Homo sapiens: one gene and its partner. The protein of the gene in region 2 interacts with the protein of the main gene of each other region in a biochemical or structural test. Each region holds a gene or a part of one and is shown on either strand. Other genes may lie near its edges.

What was found. The genes of interacting proteins can lie anywhere in the genome.
Region 1: of the proteins of VIP (region 2) and MEP1A, one has a biochemical effect on the other in vitro, tested with the Homo sapiens proteins (one study listed by BioGRID).

The regions. Positions count from the first base shown.
Region 1 is NC_000006.12:46,791,026-46,794,777, forward strand, and holds the start of MEP1A (meprin A subunit alpha precursor), read left to right. Parts: upstream 1-2,363; 5' UTR 2,364-2,373; coding exon 2,374-2,442; coding exon of another isoform or gene 2,443-2,526; coding exon 2,527-2,551; intron 2,552-2,640; coding exon 2,641-2,691; intron 2,692-3,752.
Region 2 is NC_000006.12:152,749,126-152,752,877, forward strand, and holds the start of VIP (VIP peptides isoform 1 preproprotein), read left to right. Parts: upstream 1-1,671; 5' UTR 1,672-1,834; intron 1,835-3,042; 5' UTR 3,043-3,052; coding exon 3,053-3,159; intron 3,160-3,752. UniProt on the Homo sapiens protein: PHM-27 and PHV-42 are two bioactive forms from proteolysis of the same precursor protein, that cause vasodilation. PHM-27 is a potent agonist of the calcitonin receptor CALCR, with similar efficacy as calcitonin.

The DNA of each region.
Region 1 (3,752 bases), about 110 Mb from region 2:
TTGCTTCAGAATTTGAGAAAAATTAAACAACACATTTAAGAAATAAAAGTCTCATATGTTTTCCACACTGATACTTAAAGCCAATTATTCTTACGATGTTGGCCAGTTTTAAAATTTGATTATTGCCCAATTTTTAAATGGTCTAGATTGTAGTTGCTCACTTAAGTCATTGCGGCTGTTGGGCAAATTTGGCTTTTTGTTTTGTTTTGTTTCGTTTAAAAAATAATATTAGTGGTTTGTAATGGTTAGAGACGGTGGAAGATGGCCTTTTATCACCTCACCATCAGTGGCTTAGGTAAAACAAAAATCAGCCATAGAACGCTTCTGCCCATCAGAAGCAGGCCCCCAGTTGACATGCCTCCTATTTTACAGCTCAAGAAGCTCTACTGTTCACCTTCTAAAAGTCTTTTGTGACAGGAAATGCTTTTTTGACAGCAGGACTAGCCCACCTGCCCAGTAGTAAGTCTGAGGTAGAGAGATGCAGGCTCTAGACCTTGAAGATTGCTCTAATGCCAAAGATTCTTATATCTGGTGCAGGCAAGAATAGGTGGGTGTGTGCATATATTTAGTATTGTGCTGGCGCAGATGGAGCCCACTGTGTACATCTCTTCCCAACACTGCATTCAGTGACATGGTGTTGGTAGCTTGAAATTGACCATGGCAATCAACAAACACTACAAATAAAGGCTTGGTTTTGTTTGTTTGCTTGTTTGTTTTTACTTTTTTTAAAAGAGCCGATTATTAAACATTTACCTGTGCATGGCTGAATATATTCCATAATTTATCTTTTCTTTTAGTATAAACACATTTTCCCCATTCTTTACCATAACAAAAAAACTTCAATGAATATGCTATGTGGAATTTTGTGCACATATGTGTGAGTTCCTTTAGCATATAGACCTAGAAGTGAAGTTTCTATCTTATGAACTGTGCACATTTCAACTTCATTAGATAGCATCAAATTGATGTCCTACTAGATTTCCTATTTTCTTACCTTCTTGTTGACACTTGATATTGTCAGTCTTCTTAATTTATGCCAATCTTAGCTTGAGGTGGTATTTTACTGCTATTTGAACCTATAATTTTTCTGATTACTTACGAGGCTAAAAATCTTTTTACATATTTATTGGCCATCTGGGTCTTTTGTGAATTTGCTACTCATATTTTTTGTTCATTTTTTCCTTAGATAATCTCCTGTTCTTTTTATTGATTTGTAGAAATTCTTTACATATCCTGAATACTTATTCTTATTCAATTATATGCAGTATACATATCATCTCTCACCTGTGGCTTGTCTTTTAATCATGTTATGTTTTTGTCATAAAGAAGTTTAAATTTTGATACAGTCAAATGTATTATTCTTTTCCTCTGTAATTTCTATGTTTTTTTCATGTTTAAGCAATCTTTCTTGACCTAAAGGTTAAAAATATGTTCCTATATTTTCTTTTTTGAAGTTTATATTTTCATATTTAAATTTTTAATCTATCTAGAATTTATTTTTGTCAATGGTATCAGGTGTACATTTAATGTATTTCCTCATATGGAAATGCAATTATTCCCACATTATTATGAAAGAGACCCAAGTTTCCCTCTTGCCTTTTTGGTTCCTCTTATACATAAAAGCCCTGCATATGCTTGCATCTATTTGGATATTACCTATTCCAGTCTATAGATTCATTTTATCTTTATTTTTGGAACTATTACACTCTAATTACTGTAACTTTACCAAAGCTCCTGATATTCTTTTGAGGCAATTCTTTTCTCTTTATTCAGCCTTTTCAGAATTTTCTTATCTATTCTTCAATGTTTACTCTTTCATGCGAATTGAACCATTTGTCAGCTTGGCAAGTTCCACTGAAAACCCTGTTAGATTTTTTACTAGAATGACAATGAATTTATAGATTAATATTAAAACAATCTATTAATATTTCATACATATGTACATATAGAGAGAGAGTCAGGTATTTTTATGTCCTTCAATAATTGCTTTATAACATTTCCATAAAATTTGAATTTATATTTTATTAGAATTAAATAATAATAATTTTATAAATTATTTTTATTTTTATTGTTAAGGGGATCGTCTATCCTGTTTTATGATATGAATGGCTATGGCTGCCCTATAGGAATGTTATTAGTTCTTATATGCTCATTTCCGTATTAATTTTTCAAACTTTTCCCCAGTCTTTGGAGCTTAAGCATTTAAGGTAAACTTAGTGTTTGTCCTCGAAAGAGTCAATGATGTTATCTTTGACAACCTTTATTGGCACTACGGTACATATGGAAGGGTCAAAGTTTCTAATACGACCGTCAGGGTAAAGTCTAAACGGTATTTATGACAAGGTGTGTGCTAAAATCAGCTCACTTGCAGCAATGGCTTGGATTAGATCCACTTGCATTCTCTTTTTTACCTTGCTTTTTGCCCACATAGCAGCTGTACCGGTAAGTCGAGTCCTGCTTTTTGGATATTTAGAAATATTAATTCTAGTATACATTATCCATTTTCTGTATATTTATTTTTTTCAGATTAAGTATCTTCCTGAAGAAAATGGTAAGAATTAGTTCAAATGCACAGAGAGTGTTTTTGAACTTTTTTCCTTCGGCAAGACTAATAATAATTTTTTTTCTCACTTTTAACAGTACATGATGCAGATTTTGGTGAACAGAAGGATATTTCAGAAATCAATTTAGGTGAGTTCAATTTTTGTGTTATTAAAGTCTTGAAATTACTTGAAACCCAGTGGTGGGATTACTGAACACTTTCCTTCCTAATACTGTATTGTGATTCTCTGGGGGAGAAATATTTTTTGGTGCTTTGTGAGAAATTGCATTTTCTGAAAGATAAAAATGCGGAAAGAGAAGATAGTTAGACCAGACTTTCTAGGAGAGCTAGGAAGTCCTCAATGGATCTAGAAATATGTAACAAGTTTCTCTTTATAAAAATTTTATTTTTCCAATTTGTATTTGGAGGAAAAGGAAAGCAAATAGATAATTATTCCGATTGTTAAAGAAAAATATAAGAATAAGCCTCTGGTTATATTTAGTGGGGAAACAAAACCCAACCCCTCCACTGGCCCATCATATTCACTAACAACTCCTCGGTTGAGACTTAGGGGTGAGTGTAAAGCAATCTCCACTTAGACATCTCATTTACAAATATATTTCTTGAAGAAATTCATCAGTCTCATCCATTACTGAGAGGAGAGAGAAGCTGAGTCATCATCTCTGTTTTCTCTCTGTTGTCCTGCTTCTGAAATGAGAGAGAAGCCTCTGCATTCCCAGTGTCTTAGGTCAGGATTTGTGGAAGCAGAGCTATTCATGATAATAAGTACCTTCAGTTTACAAAAGCTTTTATATGCAATTGCATATTTATTTGTCCAGTCTTGTCGTGGAGTAAGTGCTGTTTTCATTTTTTTGGGAAGCGACAGGTGGCTTCTCATGGGTAGAGTGACTTGCTCAAGATCATAGGTAGCAGTGATGGGGCTTACTTCCAGATCTTGTAGCCCATACCTTAATAGCTCAGTGCTATCTGAAGGCTACAAAACTAACATACCAATAACTAAGGGTCAATTTTTCTGGCTTTGTCTCACTCACAGAGAAGCCAGTTAGTTGATATTTAATTGGAATAGCTGGAGAATGGCTGCATAGGCAGAGCAGAAATAGTTTAGGAAGGTAAATGGGTGAATGCATAAATGGGTCCCAAGACTTCAGAGCCAGGCACTAAAATATCTCTCTTTAGAGTTAGCCATTGT
Region 2 (3,752 bases):
GGTAATAAAATTGAATTATTTCTTTTTATTTTATCTTATTATTATTATAATAGAAGCAATTGTCTTTTGTATTGGGAAAAGCTACTATAGTTACTCTTTGTAAATGCTAAGTGCTTGCCTAGGCCAAATAATGATCAGCTTTACATCTTTTATGTTTAAAATTTTTCTTCTTATCATTCAGCAGTCATTTGTCTGTGACCCTCAATTAAGTTGCTTTGCTGTTTCTGCTCTTAAATAAAATTGGTTCACTAAGAATTGGGTGATGAAGAGCTAAGGATAAAAAAATTCCATATGAGAACTGTTTCAACCTCTAGTTTGTAATAATCAGGTAAAAAAGATTTCCTGGAATTAAGCCACAGGAACTCTGGCTTAAGTCAGAGCTGTCAACTGGGAAACAAATTTCCAGACATTTTGAAACTTAATTCATTTAATTTTTCTGGTAACTGGATTAGAAAATATGATTAAGCATAGCAGGATATTCTTTTACTGGATCAGTCTGACTTTGAACGAAGGAAATAGATACTACAATCTTAAAGTAGAAGAAAGAGGACTGTAAAGCCATTCTGTCTTATGAAACTTAGAAACAAAATGTAAAAATAATACACATGGCAGAAAGCCTTTAAAATAAAAGGAAAAATGGCATTTTCCTCTGTTGTTTAGGAAATTTTTCATGTGGCTGCATTTTTACCTTAAACTCTGATTGAATGTGTGCTAGACTACCTTTAGTTACAAATCCACAAATAGAAGTGAAGTATTTATCAAAGTACTATATAAATGCTTTTCAACTATTTGAAGCCACCTGTCAAGTGATTGAATCAGAAATGTTCAAAACTGGTTTGAGTATGTGTGTGTGTTGGGGATGAGGGTAGAAAACTAATTCTACATTATGCAAAGACTTATAAAAGTGATGAGGAAAATCTTTAAAAAGAAAAGACAATTAAATTCCTTGAGGTATATAGCCTGACAACAATTTATTTTTTGGATCATTTGACACAGTGTATGTAAAAGTGCATTGGGAATTGTGCCATTTTATACAAATATGAAATAGCACTACTTGTACTGCTTTGTACAACAGCGTGCATATCTTACTATCTTAGAGACTTTCTGAAACACTTATCTTGGAATTAGTTTCAACAAAGACGAAATGTAATAATAGGAAGGTGAAAATTATCTCTAGAGCTTTTAAAGTTAGGATAGATTTCAAGAAAGATTAAATCTGGAACTATATGAATAGCATAAAAATTAAAAATATTAAGAGAATTGATACTTTGTAATAAAGTATAATTATACTTTTATAAGCGTAATGAACATAAGTGTTTGTTGCTTTATGCATTTGTTTCTACACATGAAGTCTTTATTTTCTGAAGGAATCCCAATGGCCCTGGCTATAACACTACAATCATTTTCTTATTTTACAATTAATTAAAGGTTAAAACATTTCACATTGAGCTTGCTACTTTGTTTGTTTAAAGAAAAGTAAATTTCCTCTTATCTTACATTTTGAAGTTGCTCACTATAAACTTATATAAATTAGGCATAATGACAATTAAGTAAGAACTTCAAGCCCTATTCATCCCATGGCCGTCATACTGTGACGTCTTTCAGAGCACTTTGTGATTGCTCAGTCCTAAGTATAAGCCCTATAAAATGATGGGCTTTGAAATGCTGGTCAGGGTAGAGTGAGAAGCACCAGCAGGCAGTAACAGCCAACCCTTAGCCATTGCTAAGGGCAGAGAACTGGTGGAGCCTTTCTCTTACTCCCAGGACTTCAGCACCTAAGACAGCTCCAAAACAAACCAGAACAGTCAGCTCCGGGGGAGCACGACTGGGCGAGGTAAGTGAAAACTTTACCTTTCCTCTTCTTTTTCCCTCCTGCCTCTGGAACTTTTCTCACAAAATAATGAATTTTTCTCTCTTGAAAAGAATTTGATAGTGCTTTGCTTTTGCAACAGCAAAAAACAAGTTTCTCAAGTCACCTGGTAAGGATAGAAATACTTCAATTTCTCTCATATGGATAGATTTTCTGAATTCTTTTGTTTGTAAGATGCTTTACCCTGCTTGCTCTTTTACTGAATACTGATTTTTACAAATAATTCATTCAAGTAAAGTTTACTTGTATGTAGATTTTTGACTGAAAATTTCAGTGGGAACATTTGCTTTTGAAATTTTCAACTTATTTTTAAAGTGCTTTTTTTTTCCTATTTCGTATGTTGGTTAAGTGAATCTAAGATGCATTTATTTTTTCCTTAAGTTTAAATTCCATAATTTTTATAGGCAGCAAGAGAAACAGACCTTACTCCTAGGCTTTTAATCTAGAAACTAGAAATGAAATGTGTAAGTTGATTAAATGCAAGAAATGCAAGCTTTGCTTTTAATATATATTTTCCTCTTATGGAAAAATTTATTTCAATGACAACATATGATTCAGTAATATTTTGAGTATTAATATTCACTACTGAGTTAAGAAGTTCAAATCCAGGTGTAAGGAAATAAGTTTCCGTAATATCTACAATTGAAAGAGGAAAAAGTAATGTATATACAAAATCTTTTTTAAAATTATATGTATATATACACATTATATTTATACATTTGCACACACACGAGCAGAATAATTATTAAATAGATGATACTCTAGTCTTATATTAGTCAGATACTGAAATTTTAAAGCAGAAGAAAATCAATGTCTTGAAGCTGTTTCCTTCGTCAAAAAATACACTAAGCTTGAGTGGTACATCCCTGTTATGAAAAGATTGTCCCCAGGGTTATTTCCAGCACTATAGAAGTATGGCATTCAATAGATACTGGGGCCAACCATGTGCCCAGACAGCAGGTGAAAAGGATTCTAATTTTTATTCAAGCACCTGTCACTGAGAGAAATACTGATTTTTGAATGTATCATCTTGCAATTTAACTCTTTCTACAAGATGAAAATTACTCTTTACAAACTCTGCAAGAGCCATTGAAAATTACTGCTAGACAATCAGAATTACCTTGCTGGTGACATCTTTGGCTGGAAGAACTGAGGTGATTCTCTCTCTTTAGAGGCACAGAAATGGACACCAGAAATAAGGCCCAGCTCCTTGTGCTCCTGACTCTTCTCAGTGTGCTCTTCTCACAGACTTCGGCATGGCCTCTTTACAGGGCACCTTCTGCTCTCAGGTAAGTTCCCTTTCAATTCAAACATCTGAACATTCCTTCCTCATCTAAATGGGAATTTCCTATACATTTTGTTGGACAACTAAATAGTATAAATTATGTATTATGTATTTAAATTTTTCCTTGATGTGTTGAGTGAGAGGTGTTTGTCAACATCAGGTCATTCTGAGTCCTGGAATTCACTTTCAGGGCATGAGAGACACTGTCAGTTATTAGTTTTATGGGCTGAGTGGATCACATTCCCAAACATGGTGAAAGGAGGCTTTCACTTTCTTTTTATTCAAAACCATCTTTAGATAAATAATAAGCTTTTATCCATTGTTATCTCAAGTCAGTTCAATTTCTGGTGGAAAAAAGCTGTTTAGTTGCCAACCACATTTGAGTTTATTTTCAAGATTAATCAGTAAATAATCATAAGACTAGTAGTTGATTAGTGAAACATGTATAAAATCATGTTGCACAGAAATCTATCTAGGCAGAGTCAATTTGCCAATATTAAATATGGGGTAATTGATCTATTGAGATACACTCCCCCAATAGGAAAATTTTGATATACTTTGTTTGGACCATAAATCCTTAGTTTTATTGTTCTATAT